Regions from separate parts of the Homo sapiens genome. Here all the other regions are reported to be linked to region 1. The links are microRNA targets in miRTarBase. Many come from high-throughput screens and were not tested one by one. Region 1 holds a microRNA gene; each other region holds the end of a gene's coding sequence.
The links. The annotated mature microRNA hsa-miR-6749-3p reads CUCCUCCCCUGCCUGGCCCAG and lies in region 1 at 1,695-1,715, opposite strand. An mRNA with a match to its seed (bases 2 to 7 or 8) in the 3' UTR can be bound and repressed. Matches are read on the target gene's strand: a 7mer-m8 pairs with bases 2 to 8, a 7mer-A1 pairs with bases 2 to 7 and ends in A, and an 8mer does both.

Region 2: the mRNA of SNAI2 is a reported target of hsa-miR-6749-3p. Seed matches in the 3' UTR shown: 8mer at 1,922-1,929 and 7mer-m8 at 1,828-1,834.
Region 3: the mRNA of HOXA13 is a reported target of hsa-miR-6749-3p. Seed matches in the 3' UTR shown: 7mer-A1 at 1,515-1,521.
Region 4: the mRNA of PHF21B is a reported target of hsa-miR-6749-3p. Seed matches in the 3' UTR shown: 8mer at 517-524, 8mer at 1,545-1,552 and 7mer-m8 at 2,126-2,132.
Region 5: the mRNA of PHF1 is a reported target of hsa-miR-6749-3p. Seed matches in the 3' UTR shown: 7mer-m8 at 2,567-2,573.
Region 6: miRTarBase lists FCHSD1 as a target of hsa-miR-6749-3p. Seed matches in the 3' UTR shown: 7mer-A1 at 2,397-2,403 and 7mer-m8 at 2,685-2,691.

The regions. Positions count from the first base shown.
Region 1 is chr11:64,900,693-64,903,933 of GRCh38, forward strand. It overlaps MIR6749 (microRNA 6749), which reads right to left and starts at 1,763; the gene lies at 1,695-1,763. ATG2A (autophagy related 2A) reads right to left here. Exons shown (of 41, transcript NM_015104.3): 25 at 2,898-2,968; 26 at 2,596-2,672; 27 at 1,824-1,988; 28 at 1,568-1,694; 29 at 1,270-1,484; 30 at 192-400.
Region 2 is chr8:48,916,326-48,919,566 of GRCh38, forward strand. SNAI2 (snail family transcriptional repressor 2) reads right to left here. Exons shown (of 3, transcript NM_003068.5): 3 at 1,273-2,663. The coding sequence ends at 2,482. Among named protein-coding and RNA genes, the nearest start is that of SNAI2, 3.5 kb to the right of the region's middle.
Region 3 is chr7:27,195,121-27,198,361 of GRCh38, forward strand. It overlaps HOXA13 (homeobox A13), which reads right to left. Exons shown (of 2, transcript NM_000522.5): 2 at 1-3,241. The coding sequence ends at 3,078. Among named protein-coding and RNA genes, the nearest start is that of HOXA13, 3.4 kb to the right of the region's middle.
Region 4 is chr22:44,880,231-44,883,471 of GRCh38, reverse strand. It overlaps PHF21B (PHD finger protein 21B), which reads left to right. Exons shown (of 13, transcript NM_138415.5): 13 at 168-2,310. The coding sequence ends at 386. Among named protein-coding and RNA genes, the nearest start is that of PHF21B, 130 kb to the left of the region's middle.
Region 5 is chr6:33,415,714-33,418,954 of GRCh38, reverse strand. It overlaps PHF1 (PHD finger protein 1), which reads right to left. Exons shown (of 15, transcript NM_024165.3): 15 at 2,516-3,145. The coding sequence ends at 2,857. It overlaps CUTA (cutA divalent cation tolerance homolog), which reads left to right and starts at 848. Exons shown (of 6, transcript NM_001014840.2): 1 at 848-996; 2 at 1,260-1,474; 3 at 1,645-1,704; 4 at 1,813-1,858; 5 at 1,986-2,035; 6 at 2,179-2,513. The coding sequence starts at 955. The coding sequence ends at 2,305. It also overlaps a transcript of SYNGAP1 not described here.
Region 6 is chr5:141,638,897-141,642,137 of GRCh38, reverse strand. FCHSD1 (FCH and double SH3 domains 1) reads left to right here. Exons shown (of 20, transcript NM_033449.3): 19 at 381-436; 20 at 575-2,836. The coding sequence ends at 640. RELL2 (RELT like 2) reads right to left here. Exons shown (of 7, transcript NM_173828.5): 3 at 3,117-3,183; 4 at 2,489-2,674; 5 at 1,843-2,218; 6 at 1,693-1,726; 7 at 1,074-1,467. The coding sequence ends at 1,694. Among named protein-coding and RNA genes, the nearest start is that of RELL2, 3.5 kb to the right of the region's middle.

The sequences.
Region 1 (3,241 bases):
GGCCTTTTAGCCTGGGACAAGAGACCCCCGCTAGCCCCAGTCCTGGAAGGCAGGCGGGATAAGGAAGGATGAGGAAACTGAGGCCCACCTGGGGTGGATGGGGCTCAAGGTCTCCAGCTGCTGAAAGTCAGACCTGGACCAGCCTGAGCCCCAACCTTCACCAGCTGCCACCTGCACCCGCTCCTCCTCACCTGTGGCCGGGGTGGGGGCCAAAGTCTCGGCCCCCATAGAGGTGCCAGACGAGGGAGACCTCACGTAGCACCACCCGAGTGCTGGGCACTGGGAAATGGGCAGGTGCCCGCAGCAAGTCCGTGCTGCCGATCGGCCGTGAGAAGTAACCGTCCCTCACAACGATGGGGCCGGGATGCAGCTGTGTCACCACAGGCTCCCCATCTCGGGGCTGCAGGGAGGCCAGGTAGACGTGTGACACAGATGTTCGATCCAGCCCAGCTGCCCCCAGCCCCAGCAACCTGGCCTCACTTCTTTTTCATTTTTTTTTTTTTATAGACAGGGTCGGGTCATGTTCGGTCACCCAGGCTGGAGTGCAGTGGCACAATCACAGTTCACTGCAACCTCTGCCTCCTAGGCTCAAGCGATCCTCCATTCTCAGCCTCCTGAGTAGCAGGGACTGCAGACATGTGCCACCATATCTGGCTAATTTTATTTTTATTTTTTGTAGAGACGGGGTCTCACTATGTTGCTCAGGCTAATCTCTCATTGCTGGACTCAAGCAATTCTCCCACCTTGACCTCCCAAATTGCTGGGATTACAGGCGTAACCTACCATGCTTGGCCTCCTCCCTGTTTTTGATGAAAGATGACACTCCTGGGTTGCTATCACCCGAGTCTATGCCTGAGTGGTCTGTCCAAGAGGAGCCTGAGAATGCCAGGCTCCTGCCAGCCCTGCCTCCTAAGACCTGGGTGAGTTCAGACATTCCCACTGGCCCTTGCAGCCACATGGTTCTCCATCCCTCTTGCTAACTGCCCTCTCCTCTTCCTCCATCCCTTGAATTTCCCAGTCCCTCTGCCCAAAACACCAGGCCTCCTCTTCCTCTGGAAATCCCCCTACTCCATCAAAGCCCAGCATCAGGGCTGCCTCCCTAGGGTGGCACAGACCTAGCACCACCCCCGAGGTGATGGCAACCACCTCCTGCCTGCTTCTCTCACCACGGGAGCTCCAGATGGCCAGGCAACCACCCCTGAGTGTTCCGTCCCCGCTCCAAACACACCTGCCTGGACGGCAAACTGGTCCATCCCTCCCACCACGCACCGGGATGCCCAGGCCGGGAGCATCAAGGATGCAGAACTCATCACTGTCCAGGGTGTCTCCATCGCCCTCCTCTTCCCTTTCATCTTCCTTCTCCTCTGAGCATGACCCTAAGCTGCCAGCAGGGCCCCCGACAGGTGGTGAAGGGGGTGGGGCCCCACTCCGTTCACCTGGGAATAGGTAGACGGAGATGGGCGACGCCTGAGGGAGGTGGCCACCTATAGGAGAGAGGCCAGTTTGGAGAGGCGCCCACAGTGGGTGCCTGACTGTGTCTGCTGTCCCCACAGCACCCCCACTTCACCTGAAGGCTGGGCCAGCTCCCGTAGGCTGCGCTCGGTGTCCAGGAGGGCGTCGGCCAGGTCACGCTGGTTGATGAGGGCCGTCTCCACTGGGGGGCACGAGGGCAGAGAGGCAGGACTCTCCGAGAGCTGGGCCAGGCAGGGGAGGAGCAATGAGTGAGACAGGACAGAGCTCCCCCAACCCCAGGCCCGAGGGCCATGGCAGGGGAGGGGCCTGGCCGAGCTCTGGTAGCCTGTGTGGCCAGGCCTCACCTGTACCTTCTGGCCGGCGATCTCCGTGGGGCTGGGGGGCCGGGGTGGGGGGTGCAGATCGCCTGTGCTCATTACGTACTGGAGCAGGTTGACCAGCAGGGCACAGGAGTCGGCACAGCTGTGCACGTGTACCACATTGTTGGAGCAGCGCAGCTCGAATAGTGGCTGGCTCTGCAGGGGCGGGGTGGGGGGAGCAGCTATGTGAACACAGGGGCCACTGCCTGCTGGCCCCACCCGCTCGCTGGGAGGGCACCGCAGTTCTGATCCTGCCACAGGCAGAACAGGGATGGTCTCTCCTGGAGTGGATGACCTGCCCAGTAACTCCACTGAACAGATGAACAAACTGTTCACCCAGAGGGTGAAAGGGGCTTGGCCCAGGGCCATCCAAGGAAGCAGGAGTGTGCCCACCCACCCTACCCCACTCCCCGTGAAGGGCTCTGCATGCCTAGCGAGGCAGGGCAGGTTATCTCCATCTTACAGGAGATGAATCCGGGGACCTACAAAGGTGGCTGATTCCCAGGGCCTCGCTGGTGCCCTGGCTGCCGCGTCCTCTGGTGGCAGGGCTGAAACCCATTCATTCATTCAGCCAGCATCAAGGGACACCCCCACCAGGGCTGTACTATGGCCCTTTGCAGGAGGGGCGCTAACTGCAGCCCAGGAAGGGCAGGCATGAACTGTGTCCGGAGCCCAGGCACGTGAGGGAGCAGCAGCCCCTGAAGACTCCCTTGGCCCCTGCACCTGCTGTGGCTCCAGGAGCCAGAGTGACAGCCTCACTCACCAGTTTGCCCTCGGTGCTCCCTTTCCAGGTTTTAATCACAAGTTCCAAGAGGTCAACATCCAAAACACAGACATAATCTGCAGCAGAGGCGAGAGAAAGGTCCTGTGGCCCCCTTCCACCCGGCCCCGGCCCCAGCACCTGGGGGAAGGATCCGGTTGATCCAGGTGTAGTCCCTGCTGTGCGGGCTACGTGTGGGAGCTAAGGACCCGGCCAGCAGCTGCGGGGAGACACCTGGCTGCTCTGGGTGTGGCCGGGGCGGTGGTCCCTCAGAGGGGAGGGAGCCCAGTCCCGGCCCTGCCCACCTCGCCGCAGGTCCAGGGTCTCCACCTCACACTTGTCGGACAGGTACAAGGCGGAGTCATCGAGGATGAACCTGGGGGGGAACAGGGCTGAGAAGGGCCCGGGCACCGCTGCAGGGGGCAGCTCCACGGGAGCCGAGCAGAGGGGTCCCAAGCCCACAGGAGGTGGTATGGACAGGCCCCTCCAGCCTCAGCGTTCCTGCCTGCACAATGGGGAGAAGGCCCAGACAGCAGGCAGTGGGAAGCGGGCAGCACTTGCAGCTCTCAAAGTGCCTGCAGTTCCGACACCTCAATGGGGCCTCATGACAGTCCTGGGAAGGGGTGTCCATTTTTCTCCCTGCTGCATT
Region 2 (3,241 bases), not on the chromosome of region 1:
GACTTTTCCTCTTAGAAAGCTGATTAGATTTTGGACACCAAGACACTACTTGCCTGTAGACCTACAAATGAGGAAGGGAAACAGGAGTAGATATGATTCCTGGGATAGCCAACCAGAACATCCAAGAAGGCTTGACTCACTCACACTTCCCCTTGCCAGATGTTTCTACATGCTAGCTGGCTTGGAAACTTCTAGACAATCATTGGCAATCATTTTTATACCATATACATTTAGCTAAATTGGTACTTTTATAAGTTTAGAATGCTCCAGTCAAGCTATCAGCCATTTTTTCATATCCATAAACTGCTATTTCAAATAATTTTGCCTCTAAAAAATATGTATTGCAATGTCAAAAAATTAAAGCAGAATACTTGGGAAGCCTTTTTTTAGTCAAATGCACCCCCTTTTATATGGTGGCTGAAAATGTAAATGTAACATACAGTGGAAGGAATGCGAACATTAAGGGAATAGTATTGGTATTTATTGTTGGTCATTTGCTAGGGGCCTGCTACCAACATCTTTGAGATACAGGTTCTGGCATTTATTGGTATAATATTACAAAGATATTAAAAGGAAAAAGATGATTCTCCAAGTTCTGATCAAATCACCAGAGAGATGTGATGAACAGAAGCAGGACTCTTCTTCTTTTAGTAGGTTTAGGAGTTTGAATTCAAATATATATTTGGCTAACTTTCACAGTTCCTATGATGGTTAGGATTTTTGCATGTGAGTTACTACACATGCATTTATTTAGCATCTACACATGCATATGTGTATGAATGCATGGTCATGTTATACTTTCTCCAGTACACATTAGGTTTGAGTGTGGGCTTGTCCAACGTGTTCAAATACCTTAAAAGGTAATTTCCACTGCTCACTGACCTGTTCCTATCAAACACATCACTTATTTTATATATTACTAGATGCGGGGTTTTCTTTGCATGGTTTAACTTTCCAACTTGTGTAATTTATAGTAAATCGTTTCTCCTGGTCTTTTCATGCAGTTTGTATTCTTTTCCCTCATATATCTCTTTACATAATATTTCTTTTAAAAATCTTAAACTGTTACAGTGTGTAGGTAATAATAAAAGTGATTGTATTTTTTGTCTTCATAAAACAAACTTAATAAAGTCAACATGAAAAATTTTGAAAAGTATTTTTAACTATTAGTAATACAACTAGTTTTGCACCCAGAAAGTGTGATTTTTGTTAAAGTGGTATGCTAACAAACCACCGTCATGTCTCTTCTGAATGTGATACTACTATCTTGAGTAAAAATAATACTAGCAGCTTACTTTATTATAATCTAACACATAAAATAACACTTCAGATGCATAATAAGCATTATTCATTTTTTTCTTGTTAACAAACAATTCTTTGTACAGTGGTTTGGTACTAATCATGAAGCAAGTAAAGTCTCTGAAAATAGTATACAAACGAGATTTTAAATCAAAACTGTTTATTGTAAAAAAAACTTGAAAATTGTTTTTTAAAAAAGAAACATTGATTTCACAAGTCTTCAGGTTGTTTATAGACATAGCTATAGACAACATCTCAGTTTCATACAGAACTCATTCAATCATATAAAAATAAACACAAATTTACATTGACTCATCAACTATACAATTTAAAAAGGCACTTGGAAGGGGTATTGTATTATTGCATTTGTGGTATGCATTTGAAATAGTTTAAGTACATTAATGAATTTGTAAGAATCCTCTTTTGCACTTATTCCCATCTTTAATTAATTTTCAAAAATTATTAAAATGTTTTAAAATAGTAAGACAATGGAGCATGCGCCAGGAATGTTCAAAGCTAATCTTTCCCTCCTCCCCCAAGGCACATACTGTTAATTGGCAAAAACAAAACAAAACAAAAATACTTTTAATACATTCTCCTGTGTTTTGTTCTTGTTATTTTTTTCCTCCCTTTTAAAAATATACTTTAAAGCACTACAGGTAATCAAAAAAAGGCTTTAGTTCAACAATGGCAACCAGACAACCGACATGTAATGGAGTAAACTTGGAATACTTTTTAAGGCACCTGAGTTCGCGTCTGGCAGATCTCTTCCTATGGGAAATCCTATTACAGACTCTATTACAAAGCAATACTGTTCTTTTCAGTTGAAATGATTTGGCAGCAATGTAAATCTTTGCATTTTTTTAGGAAGAAAAGATGCAATGTGCTTTTCATTTTATCTTTGAAGAGAAAGGTTACTGTCTTTTATTCTCTCAATCTAGCCATCAGCAAATATATAGTAATTTTAAACTTCACATGGAAAGGATTATCTTTAAACACATGAATTCCATGCTCTTGCAGCTCTCTCTCTGTGGGTGTGTGTGTGTGTGTGTGCATATGTGTGTGTGTCTATACATATTATTTGGTTGGTCAGCACAGGAGAAAATGCCTTTGGACTTTATTTGTCATTTGGCTTCGGAGTGAAGAAATGCATTCTGTTCGAGTAAACATTGATTGCGTCACTCAGTGTGCTACACAGCAGCCAGATTCCTCATGTTTGTGCAGGAGAGACATTCTGGAGAAGGTTTTGGAGCAGTTTTTGCACTGGTATTTCTTTACATCAGAATGGGTCTGCAGATGAGCCCTCAGATTTGACCTGTCTGCAAATGCTCTGTTGCAGTGAGGGCAAGAAAAAGGCTTCTCCCCTGGGGGTGGAGTGGGAGAAAAAAAGAAAGACAGTCAGTGTTTTTAGAGGAAACATAAAGTAAAATCATGTTAACAAAAGTCAATCACATTTTGCTTAAATAATGAGAAGCAGCAAAACCTGATTAAAATCCCTCATAATAGACACTTTTAAAAATACCTGAATTTTTAAGATAAACTTGAATATTGCATTTAAAAATCATACACGAATATTATTACTGCTGCCAATCATACAGAAATAATTTACGTAGTTCTTGGACTTTCACTTCTTAAAGCTTTCTGCTTTAGCAGATGCAGCTAATGTTGAGCACCTCCCAACATTTCCCAATATTTCCCCTTTTCCCTCTTTCTGTACTATGATTAAGGTGGTCTAAGTGCCATGATACCCTGCAGAATAATTCTGTGATACGAATAAGAAATTAAGGAGCAAAAAATCCCCAAACAAAGCAAGAGAGGCAAAGTAAATTTAGTTTCAACTATCCAAGTCACCCACGGGTGACAAATATCAGAGCAAGAATGTAACTAACAGAAAACTGTAGGAAAAGCCTTCATCTATTAACCAAATCAATTGATTAAGATA
Region 3 (3,241 bases), not on the chromosome of region 1:
CCTCAGGGCAGCAAAATATAATTGAATTTCTCGAGACCTTTCGATATGTATGTTTCAACACCAGCCTGTTTTTGAGACAGCTTTAGAGACTCTTTCGTAATTCTCATCTATAAAGAAGTTGTGAGTCCTCAGGAGAGGTTGGAGAGGTTTCCGGCAGCCACTTTTGTAACCAATCAATATTATTTTCCATAAAATGATGAATCTGGTTCTTCCATTCACTATTACTTTCCTCTAACGTAAAGATAAAATTAGCCTGCATCTCACAATTCTGCATCCCACGGCTACTGATTCCACCAACATTTTAATACATATGCGCATAGCATAGATTTGACAAAAACACATTATCCTATGTGTATATTAAATATACAAACATACATATGTATTCTTTATGACTCTGAATACAGCACCTGATTGTTGTTAGAGGTCAACAGTAGATATAATATTATTATTATAGTTTTGATGGAAGTTGTTAATATTAAACATATTTATTTATCCTACAAATCAAATGGCAGATTCACAAGCATCAATATAAGATTGCACACCACCCTGGAGCAGTACTCAGCTCTGAGTTATCCAGGATAACTCTCGTTCTGTATCCAATCCTGTGGTCATTTTGTAGATATGAAATATTAAGTCCTCTTTACTGACCTCTCAAGAGGTGGGTTTCTTAGACTTTCTGAAACATAACTCTAGAACTCTAGACTTAGCAAGGCATCTGAATCTTAATTTGCTGTAAAGACTCCTCAATAGCTCTAATTACAGTGTGAGACCACCCTGGAGGGTGAGGACCAGGAAGGAATGGTGATTTAAGAACACATCTTAGACTGTAACAAAAATGTACAGCTTTAAAGCAGATCTGCAGAAATCTGATGCAGAGCAAGCCACTGTGAAGACAAATCAAATTTGGCCATTAGAGAAAAGGAACAAGGCTTCATCTTGTAAAGTACATTTTGTACCTCAATTCTAGAAATCACCTTAAATTACAATATCTTGCGTCATTAGCAATTAATGATATGATATCTGTACAGATTCTACAAATATATATACAAGCACACACAAGCACTAATATGCAAATGTATACATGTGTACACATATTATATATATTTACATATATACAGGGACATGTATAATTTACATATATTCAAATTTGCTCCAGCTGGAGCCAAATAATTGAGTACTGAATCTCTAAAGTCAAGGAGGTAAGAGCTCTTGATTCCCTTGGTTGAAGAATTACAAGGAGGCTTGTCAACGCGAGGTGGCGCCCTTGATCTACTAATCCAGCTAAGGCCAATTCATGAGCTGTCAAAAGTCAAGGTCACAAATTGTCTTTTTTTTCGTCAAGGTCAAGGTTTAAGGCCTTTCGTAGTCCTGTCATTTCAACAAATATCAAAACCTGCCCTCTCAGACACATGCAGACCCAACAGCAGATTTTAAAATACGACAGCCTAGGCATTGCTGCTACAAAACAACTGGTTTTCATTTTCCACAGGGAGCCTGGGAATTCATACTATCTCTTCCTCCTTTCTTTTCTCTCCCTTTTGTAATACCTGACACTTTAATCTCCTTGAAGCACTTATCATTTTTTAGGATTTTAGTTATGAGGGATTTCTCCCTTTTCTTAAAAATTTGGTAGCAAAAGAAGTACTGAATAATAATAAAGAATGGTCCTTGGTTTATATAAGATAAACCTGCTCCTTTTCTTTCTGTGCAGTGCACATTTAGCATAGGAAAGTAAAGAGTATTTTCTGCAGATTTTAATGGCAGTGACTATTTTATTAACAATTAATATTACGATATCACTATCTACAGGTCTAAGGGTTTTTTTTTTTCATTTTTAGTAGAAATATTTAAAAAGCAGGTGCACAAATACATTTTCACAGTGTGCTGAATGTCTTTATTTACAAGATATCATTCTATAGTGAATATGAACAAAACGAATGTGCTGGTTGAAATAACTGCTTGATTAAAAATGTGCTGTGAAGATGAATCACTAATCTTTCTAATGCACTCTGATAACACAATAAACATGGAAAAATACTAATCCCTTAATAGATCAAAATATAGAATATAGACACCTAAATATTTCAGGGGAATGAATTTTCATTCTGAGTTTTCTAAAAAAGAAAAAAGAAAAATGATTTCTCCAGCAAATGTTTAGCAAATATTGGGAAATGCCAATTCAAATGAAAAAACGAATTGTGTTCAAACCAAAGTCCATCATGTTGGGATGGAAACTCTCGGGAGATCTCACATAAAGTGAATTCTGTGGATCATCTGATGATGTAAACATTTTCAAAAAGATACAAAATCCTTTGGAAAATAACGGATATTGGAGCAGTAAATATAGTTCAAATGCCACAAAATATGCTTGTTATAAGCAATTAAAAATTATTCTTAAAAAGACATTACCGACCCGGGTTCTCTTGTAGCCTGAAAGGTTCAGCTGGTTGGTTTTACTATACTACCAAGACAAATGATCCTCAGAAGAGTTTTCTCTCCCTTTCTCCCTTCACAGCAAATATTCCAAGATCATTATTTCAGTACCTTCTCGTTTCCCCTCTAAATCTATACATAAAATGTTTTGCAGAACGTACAACAACGGTAGGAATTTCACTAAGATTTACCTGAGCAGACGCTTAACATGCAAAGGGAATGGCGACCTAAGAAGGACAAGCAGATGTTTACAATGGCCTCTTGCGTTTGTAACCAACTTCCAGATTATTACCATCTAACGCAGTGTCCTAAAATGTAACGATCACTTAAATACTTACAAGATTTCAGTAACTGCGTAACTTATCTGAAATTGCGTATTTTGGGGGTTGACGTTTGACATTTAACGGGCTGGGCTGATGGGGTTGGCGGAAGAACTGGCAGTCTTTACCTTTCTTAAAGTTTTAAAACAGTTGTAGATTCCATTAAAGAGAAAGAGATCTCCTTCGGGAGAGGAAAATGCCAGTCTCTGTCTCTTTCTCTTTCCCATTCTTCAATTATTATTAAGCATTATTATCATTATCTGGGCAAAGCAACGAGTTCTGAAGCGTTTCTTCAAGTTGCCTTCTTGCTCTATTTTTAATCCATTAACTAGTGGTTTTCAGTTTGTTGATGACTTTTTTCTCTTTAACCCTCCTGTTCTGGAACCAGATTGTGACCTGCCGCTCAGAGAGATTCGTCGTGGCTGATATCCGCCTCCGTTTGTCCTTAGTAATGAATTTATTCGTGGCGTATTCCCGTTCAAGTTCTT
Region 4 (3,241 bases), not on the chromosome of region 1:
GCTGCTCTTTAATTGCATTTGCACCACTGCCTGGTTTTTGTGAAGCCCTCAGCCTGGTTTCTTGTAGGCCTTTGTAGTGGAGGGGAGAGGGGCCCAGACGGTGGCTGCCCCAGGATGGCTGTAGAGCCGAATACTGAGACCCTTTCCCCTGACCTTCTCCCCAACAGAAATGCCTGGAGTTGAAGACAAGCCTGCTGGCCCGCCAGAGGGGCACCCAGTCATCCCTGGACCGCCTGCGGGCCCTCCTGAGACTGATACAGGGCGAGCAGCTGCTCCAGGTCACCATGACGACCACTAGCCCTGCCCCACTGCTGGCCGGGCCCTGGACCAAGCCCTCAGTGGCAGCCACACACCCCACCGTCCAGCACCCCCAGGGCCACAACTGACCCCGAGGGACCAGTCTTCATACCCACGGAAAGTTATTGGGACCCTGCTTACACAGCCTGGGGGTTCTGTCGGCCTTAATTCATAAACACTATGAATTTCAGACAAAAATTAACCAGACAGAGGAGAGGAGGGAGGAAGAGCTGGGCGAGAGGCCTAGAGCCAGGACCAGGTGGGGGTGCGGCCCTGTGCCCTCCAAATTCACAGGGGGTACCTAGGAGCCAGGTGGGGTACGACAGGCTGGGGCACACAGTCTCCCCCCGGCCACCTCGGGGCTGCCTGGGCCTCTGGCTTCCAGGCCCTGCTCTCCACGGCCTCCCTCTGGCCCGTTGGAGGGGCAGGCTGAGGCTGTGGAGGGGACAAGCACGCCCCCCAGAACGCAGTCTCCACTGAGGGCACCGCCTATTGGTGTCCTGTGGGAGGGCGAGCTGAGAACACATGGACTAGCTGAGTGGTAGCGGTAGTTGGGACGAGAAGCGGGGTAGTGGATCTAGGTAGTTCCTCAATGCCCCACGCTCCTAGGAGGTCCCCCTGGGGTGGGCGGGCGGGCCTGGGGCACTCCGTCGCCTTTGCAGAACCACCTGGGCCCCTTTCTGTCAGTATTATTAGGGTTACGAATTGCAGCTGTTTAACTTGAAAGACACTGTCGGAGGTGAGCATCTGGGCGCCGGGACGCTGCAGTGATCCCCGCCAGAGCCTGTGCCCTTCCTGCTCCGTCTTTGGGGTCCTCAAGGCTGCCTCCTTCCTTTTGCCAATCTCTTGGACTCAGTTTGCCGTTGATGCGTTTTTCTCATGGAGTTTCTGGGCAGAGTGGAGCTGCAACCCTGTTGTGGGGGGCAGCATTTGGCAGGTTTTCTCCTTGGGGTTGAATCATTCAACTTAACGACTGAAGCCCTTTCTTGTCTCCTTTGGAAGAGCCGATAAGTATTCCACTCCTCCCTTCTTGCCAGTGCAGACACTATGCCAAAAAATAACTTCACACTTTTGTATGGCGTTTTTATTGTGAGATATTTAATGTGAATGGTTGGGGGGACTCTGGCTGACTTCCTTTCTGCTTCTAGTAGTCTCTGCTTCAAGGTACAAATGGGAACACCTCCCCTCGGGAAGCCTGGCCAAGCTGGAAGATCCGGCAGGTTTTTTACGAGCCGGGTGGAGGGTTGGGGAGGAAAGAAAGGGCGGTGGCTCGGGAGGTTCCGGCCTTCGGGGACCAGACTTGCTGCCAAGGGCTTCTGCATCCAGGGTGGGCAGTGGCAGCTTGTCACCCTTGCCCGATTCCCACATCCCAGTCCTGAGGGACTCAGCACAACAGGATAAGCGTCCAGGAGCCACGGGCTCCCACCCCGAGCATATCACATGGTGCCGAATTGCACTGAACACGCGTGTGTGCATCGCACGCGGCCACGACCACAGACACGCATGCACACACGCAGAGGTGCAGAGCGAGGAGGCCGGCAAATCCCGCAGCTGCCACGGTCCCTCCTGTCATTCTCACGACTCCGGGAGAAACTGTGCTGTATGATACAGATCTATTTTAATACACTTACCACTGGGTGAACAAGATTTTTATATTCTTTTATTGATGAACAAAGTGAACCGTGTGAGGCACACGTCTTCTATATTGGCTACTCTGTGCCAAGTATGCATTACCGCGTGGCTTGCGATGTCCATGTCTTCAGCTTCCTTTTCTGTTGGTTTGGTTTTCTTCGCGGATGGATTGAGTTACATGTTTTAACAGTGTAATGGGAGGATCTGAAAGGTTGGACCCGGGAGGGGTAGCTGCCGATGTGTCTTGAGATTGTTAGGTTTTTTTTGGACCAAGGAGGACCGTCCAGTGGGTAGTGAGGATAGAGAAAAAGTGTTTGTCTTAAATACGCCAATGTAGTTTTCCTTCTTTACAATGTATTAAACTCGATCGATGATTTCAAAGCCCTGTGGTTTTGGTGTCCTTGCGTTGCGGAGAGGCCCCCGGGAGTGCCCAGGGCAGCCAGGTGGGCGTTGGAGGGGCTGGAAATCAGGGTCTTCTCCCATCCTGAGGAGGGAGGGATGGAGGGAGGGAAACAGGGAGAGAGCTCAGTGCCCTCCACTCACTCACCCCCGATTCCCAGTCCTCAGAGGCGGCGGGTGACCCTTTAGGGCTAGGATTGAGGGTGGAAAGTCTTGGAAACCCAGCAGGTCTGTCACTGTGCAGAGCCCAAGGTGGTGCCCTCTGCTCCCTCATGGGTTCCTGCCTCTCAGCCTGGCAACATCACCGCTGTCTCTCTCCCCCAGCAGCGGGTACAGGCGCTCCTGCAGCCACGCTGAGCTTACACCTTGCCCTACAAGAGGTGGGGAATCAGCCCCCCTGAGTCCTAGCTCCTGGCATTGCACGGGGGACTCTGATTGGCCAAGTGGGTCGGGGCCGACCCCTGGGCAGTTAGCTGTGGCCAGAGGCTGGGGTCTAATGCCAAAGTGGGGTCCGGTGCCCCAGGGGACAGAGAGGTGGAGGGCATGCAGGGCTGCCACACAGTCCCGCTTCATGGCTTGCCCTGGGGAGAATAGTTTGGGAGGAGGGGAGCAGGTTTCAAGTCAGCTCTGCCTGAGCCCTCCTGGGGGCCACTCAAAAGACCACACTCGGCATCCGTGGCTCACTCCTGTCCTCTTTGGATTCTCTTCAGTCCGACTCCCCACCCCTTTGCACCTCTGGAACACCAGGTCAGTAGTGACCTCCCATGGCCAGATCCCCGGGGTGCTCCCGGTCATCACCTGGACCTCTCAGAACCAGAGGACACATTGGCCACACCCCCTGCCAAAGGAGGCTCCTGGGACCTCACTCCTGCCAATGTGGCTGCTCCCTGGTCTCTGCTCCAGACTTGCTTCT
Region 5 (3,241 bases), not on the chromosome of region 1:
GACCAATCCTGGGGAGTGGAATAGGCAGGGAAGAGGGGACAGAAGGACCATCACCACTGTCCCCATCCTGCAGCCCTCGTTCTCCTTCCCTCTGATTCAGTAGTCTGTCTCAAGCTTTGGGTTTTCAATTAAGATGGCTAGGCCCCATTTTCACCATCCTCTACCACAGGGTCTCGCTCTGTTTTAAAATGCTTCTTTCCTCAGCTAGCTATTGTCTTGCCATGCCCGTGCCTGCCTAATCACTCCCTGCTACCCAGGGACAGCGGGCTTCTAGATCACCGTTGTTCATTCCCAAACCCAGGCATATCTCTGCCCAACTAAAAGGGCAGGGGGCGCTCTCTTAACCCCTGAGTTTGGGGTGAAGGGTCCTTCTCAGACCCTCCCACTCCTTAAGACCTCGGAAACAGTGCAGGGGAGGTCACTAGGCACATTGTGGGGTTTAAGGATGATTCCCCACTCCACAGCCTGACGCATCGACTCTGCGGGGTCTCTGGCCCCCCTTTCCTGGAACCAGCTCTCGCCTCACGTGGCCTGCGAGGCTGGCCTGTGATTGGCCACTTGGCGTCACTCACTGAGTGCCGCCGCCGAAGAGGACCGGCCCCCTCACGTGACAGTGGAACGCCGCAGCGGCTCTCCTCAGCCAGCAAGTGGCAGTTTCGGGTTCACACGGAAACGGGCGTGCCATTTCCGCGCACGTCTGCAGATGCGGTAGTCGATTGGTCAAGTCTCCCATGGCTCCTCCTTCATCAGGAGGTGGGCAAACCGCGCCATGATAGGGTCGGGATTGGCTGGCTCTGGAGGCGCAGGTGGTCCTTCTTCTACTGTCACATGGTGCGCGCTGTTTTCTAATCACGTGGCTGCCACCCAGGTAAGAAGAGGCCGCTCTTCCTGGGGTTGTTTCTCCGTGTGACGTGTGGCCTTTGAGATCAACTCTCCTGTACCAGCGTAGGCCGCATGAGTGGGGGGCGGGCTCCCGCGGTCCTGCTCGGCGGAGTGGTGAGTGACCGGCCCCGCCCCGCCCCTTCCGGTCCTCGAAGCCTCGACCGCTACCCGCACCCTAAATCCCAGAGGTTGGCCCCCTGAGGTGTGAGTGAAATGAGCTTTTGCTTTATTTTCCAAGTTTCTCTCTCACCTTCAGGGGCATTCTTCGGGGGTGCATCAGAGGGAGGGCAGAGCCTGAGGATCTAAGCGAAGGCTTCCCCGGGTGTAATTTCCTGGGCTGTTTGTGAGGAGAGATCGAATTCGCCTCCTGCTCTCAGGCCTCTCTGCTCCTGTCTTTTGTTTGGATGCCGGCGCTGCTGCCTGTGGCCTCCCGCCTTTTGTTGCTACCCCGAGTCTTGCTGACCATGGCCTCTGGAAGCCCTCCGACCCAGCCCTCGCCGGCCTCGGATTCCGGCTCTGGCTACGTTCCGGGCTCGGTCTCTGCAGCCTTTGTTACTTGCCCCAACGAGAAGGTCGCCAAGGAGATCGCCAGGTAGGGACCTCGATGTGCAGCGAGAAAGGATGATCATGAAGGGACAGTTGGGGGTGGGGCAGAAGAGTGCTGCTTTCTCCTTTCTCCAGCTCTGGAAGCCTGTCTCTGGGCTGCCAGTACAAAAACTGGGGTTATGGGGTACTCTGAATGGGACTGTCTCTTCACTCCAGGGCCGTGGTGGAGAAGCGCCTAGCAGCCTGCGTCAACCTCATCCCTCAGATTACATCCATGTGAGTCATAGGAGTTGGGGGGTTAACCTAACTGTAGGAGCTGACTGGGAACCTCTTTCCTGGGGGAAATTCTTTGCTCCCCACAACTCTCCCCCTCTGACCTTTCAGCTATGAGTGGAAAGGGAAGATCGAGGAAGACAGTGAGGTGCTGATGGTGAGAAACATTTCCCCCACCCAACAAAATATCCCCAATCCCTGACCCCTTTAGCCCTTACCCCTCTTCTGAGAAACTGAACTCAATCCCACTCCTTGATTCAACCATGTTTATCTTTGTCCCTTAGATGATTAAAACCCAAAGTTCCTTGGTCCCAGCTTTGACAGATTTTGTTCGGTGAGAACTTTGAGATGGATGGGGTGAGGGTGTGTACTGTGTGGGTGTGACTTGCTGGGCAGTCTAGGGCTTGCGTGTAAGGGAGTGGGTTCTTTTGGGTAAATCTTTGAGTGATCCCCTTCCCCCACCCACCTATTTTGTAGTTCTGTGCACCCTTACGAAGTGGCCGAGGTAATTGCATTGCCTGTGGAACAGGGGAACTTTCCGTACCTGCAGTGGGTGCGCCAGGTCACAGAGTCAGTTTCTGACTCTATCACAGTCCTGCCATGATGAGCCCTGTTCCTGCTCATCATGAAGATCCCCGCGATACTTCAACGCCTTCTGACTTCCAGGTGATGACTGGGCCCCCAATAAATCCCGTCTTTGGGTCTCTCTGCCTTTTGCCTGTTTTTTGTCATGTATGCAAATTTGTTGGGAGAATATAAGTGCTTCTAGTCCCTGTATTCTCTACATCTTTCAGAATGACTCAGAGCTGCTAGATTTGTTTATTTCTCTTTATTTCAATCATACAGAGTCCGGGATCCCTTATCATCCTCCCTCCTCAGTCTCTGCCCCCAGGGGTTAAATAATTTTAAAAAATATTTAAAAAGCTGTAACAAAATAACATCAAAGGAAATGGGAAGGATGGGAGGGGTCAGGAATCATGAAGGAGGGTAGAGAAGAGGGCCTCTTCCCCACTCCCCACTCTTGGATTCCAGCCTGGGCAGTAGGGAGAACTACCCCCTATCTCTCCAGGTACATCCCAGCTGTAGGTGAGGTCAGAGGTCAGGGTATGAAAGTGCCGGTGTGTGTGAATGGGGAGCTGGGCAGAGGCAGGCTGTTCAGAAGATGCCCCCTCCTCCCCACTCAACCAGGTACTGCACAGAGCCATCAGGCCGTACTCTCCGAGCAAGGACCCGGACAGGGTCCCCTCGGGACAGGTAACCAACCCCACCTCGGACTCCTCCCCCAGTCCCAGGAGACAAACTACGGCACAGGGGAGAAGGGGGTGCTGAGCGTCTAGGAAGACCTGGGGATGGGGATGAAACTGAGGAAGATGAGGCAGTCATCGAGTGGGGGGCACTTTTAGGGATGTCTGTGGGGAAACCAATGTGAAGTTCCAGGGGTGACCTAGGGAGAGAAGGCAATTGTAAGAAATGGGCAGAAATGGAGAGCACATGTGAATCAGAGAAACAGTGTTAGAGACTAAGAGCCTTGAGCACATAG
Region 6 (3,241 bases), not on the chromosome of region 1:
TCTGGTACTTCCACCTTGTCCACAAGGAGTCTCCCTCCCTGGAGTTACCACCATCTCCACCACCCCAAGTTCACTTTGCATGACTTAGCACTTAGTCATTTATTGTGTTTGTTGAGGTTTCATTATTGGTTTCTTGACAGCCATTGGGGGTGGGAGCACTATGCATCCTATCTCCCTTAGTTTTGTACCTTGAGCAGAGCTGATTATACAGCAGTTGCCCAATAAATGTTGAGGACAGTGGATAGAGTGATGGATTTTATGGTCTAGGATGGTGACCATTAATTTAACAAATATTTATAGAATGCCACTGTCCTAAGTGCTGGAGATACAGCATTGAACAAAACAAAGTCTGAAGACTGACTTGTGGTTCTTATTTCCAGACAAAGCCCTGGACTTCCCTGGGTTCCTGGACATGATGGCACCTCGACTCAGGCCGGTAAGGGCCCTTGCCTTGGAGGAGATTGTATGTAGAGGGGTTATTCCAACCAGTCCTGTTTTGTCTGCAGGGCTGAGGGAATAGACAGGGATACCCTTAAGGGAGAACTCTGGAGCACTAACTGTGTGTTCCCTACAGATGCGTCCACCACCTCCCCCGCCGGCTAAAGCCCCGGATCCTGGCCACCCAGATCCCCTCACCTGAAGGCCAGGGAAGCCTTGACCCCCAGTGATGCTGCTGTCCCTATCTTCAAGCTGTCAGACCACACCATCAATGATCCAGAGCAACACAGCCAAAAGCTGGAATCGCCCTTATTTCCACCCTCACCTCCAAGGGTGGAAACTTGCCCCTTCCCATTTCTAGAGCTGGAACCCACTCCTTTTTTTCCCATTGTTCTATCATCTCTAGGACCGGAACTACCTTCTCTTCTGTCATGACCCTATCTAGGGTGGTGAAATGCCTGAAATCTCTGGGGCTGGAAACCATCCATCAAGGTCTCTAGTAGTTCTGGCCCACCTCTTTCCCCACCCTGGCTCCATGACCCACCCCACTCTGGATGCCAGGGTCACTGGGGTTGGGCTGGGGAGAGGAACAGGCCTTGGGAATCAGGAGCTGGAGCCAGGATGCGAAGCAGCTGTAATGGTCTGAGCGGATTTATTGACAATGAATAAAGGGCACGAAGGCCAGGCCAGGGCCTGGGCCTCTTGTGCTAAGAGGGCAGGGGGCCTACGGTGCTATTGCTTTAGGGGCCCACCACGGGCAGGGGCCTGCTCCCAGCTGCCACGCTCTATCATATGGAGCGAGGTGTTGGGGAAGGCGGGGCAGGCAGCCTGTTGCAGGCAGGGGAAGGAGAAGAGACTGAGGGGCTGTGACCTCTCCTGAGGCCCCCAGCCTGAGACTGTGCAACTCCAGGTGGAAGTAGAGCTGGTCCCTCAGCTGGGGGGCAGTGCTGTCCAGTGGAGGGGAGGGCTTTCACGCCCACCCACCCCCTGGCCCTGCCAGCTGGTAGTCCATCAGCACAATGAAGGAGACTTGGAGAAGAGGAAGAATAACACTGTTGCTTCCTGTTCAAGCTGTGTCCAGCTTTTCCCCTGGGGCTCCAGGACCTTCCCTACCTCCACCACCAAACCAAGGGATTTATAGCAAAGGCTAAGCCTGCAGTTTACTCGGGGGGTTCAGGGAGCCGAAAGGCTTAAATAGTTTAAGTAGGTGATGGGAAGATGAGATTACCTCATTTAGGGCTCAGGCAGACTCACCTCACATACTCCCTGCTCCCTGTGGTAGAGACACCTGAGAGAAAGGGGAGGGGTCAACAATGAGAGACCAGGAGTAGGTCCTATCAGTGCCCCCCAGAGTAGAGAGCAATAAGAGCCCAGCCCAGTGCAGTCCCGGCTGTGTTTTCCTACCTGGTGATCAGAAGTGTCTGGTTTGCTTGGCTGCCCATTTGCCTCTTGAGTGGGCAGCCCTGGGCTTGGGCCCCTCCCTCCGGCCCTCAGTGTTGGCTCTGCAGAAGCTCTGGGGTTCCCTTCAAGTGCACGAGGGGTTAGGCTGCTGTCCCTGAGTCCTCCATTCTGTACTGGGGGGCTGGCTAGGACCTGGGGCTGTGGCCTCTCAGGGGGCAGCCTCTCCATGGCAGGCATCCCTGCCTTGGGCTGCCCTCCCCCAGACCCCTGACCACCCCCTGGGTCCTGTCCCCCACCAGAGCCCCAGCTCCTGTCTGTGGGGGAGCCATCACGGTGTTCGTGCAGTCCATAGCGCTTCTCAATGTGTGTCACCCGGAACCTGGGAGGGGAGGGAACACTGGGGTTTAGGACCACAACTCAGAGGCTGCTTGGCCCTCCCCTCTGACCAGGGACATCCTGAGTTTGGTGGCTACTTCCCTCTGGCCTAAGGTAGGGGAGGCCTTCTCAGATTGTGGGGCACATTGTGTAGCCTGACTTCTGCCGGAGCTCCCAGTCCAGGAGGAAAGAGCCAAGGCCCACTTTTGGGATCAGGTGCCTGATCACTGGGCCCCCTACCTCAGCCCCCCTTTCCCTGGAGCACCTGCCCCACCTGCCCACAGAGAACACAGTGGTCTCCCCTGTCCGGGGGCGGCTTTTTCCTTCCTTGGAGCGTCCCTGACGGACAAGTGGAGGCCTCTTGCTGCGGCTGCAATGGAGGCAAGGGGCTGCAGAGCCCAGGTGCACTGTGTGATGATGGGAGGGGGCTCCGTCCTGCAGGCTGGAGGTGGCATCCACACTGGACAGCAGGGAGGAGGGGAGTGAGGGTAACATTTCCATTTCCCTTCATGTTTTGTTTCTTACGTTCTTTCAGCATGCTCCTTAAAACCCCAGAAGCCCCAATTTCCCCAAGCCCCATTTTTTCTTGTCTTTATCTAATAAACTCAATATTAAGATGTTAGTGACCATATGTTCTTCCTCCCAGGGCTGTTTGCTAAAAAGAACACTGCTTAACCCAAAGGAGTGGCACTAGAGGTGAATGTTAGGCTTGATGATATCTAGATGAGAGAGATGGTTTGAAGGAATCGCGATTTCTACAAAACAACTTTCTTCCTATAAGTTAGCCAGCTTTGCCCTTCCCCCAACCCCATACATGCAAGGAGGCTGGGAGAGGATTGTGCTGGAGGAGAGGATACTCTCCAAGGCAAGCTAAGTCATGCTGGCCCTTGTTTCCAGCTCACCTGGACAGCTGCACTGTCCCTTCTCCTTCACTGTCCCCCAGCATCTCCTTCAAGGCCTCAGCATTGGCTGAGGGAAGAAGGAAAAGAGGGAGTCAGTGGAGGTGGAGGTCAGGGCAAGAGAAGGT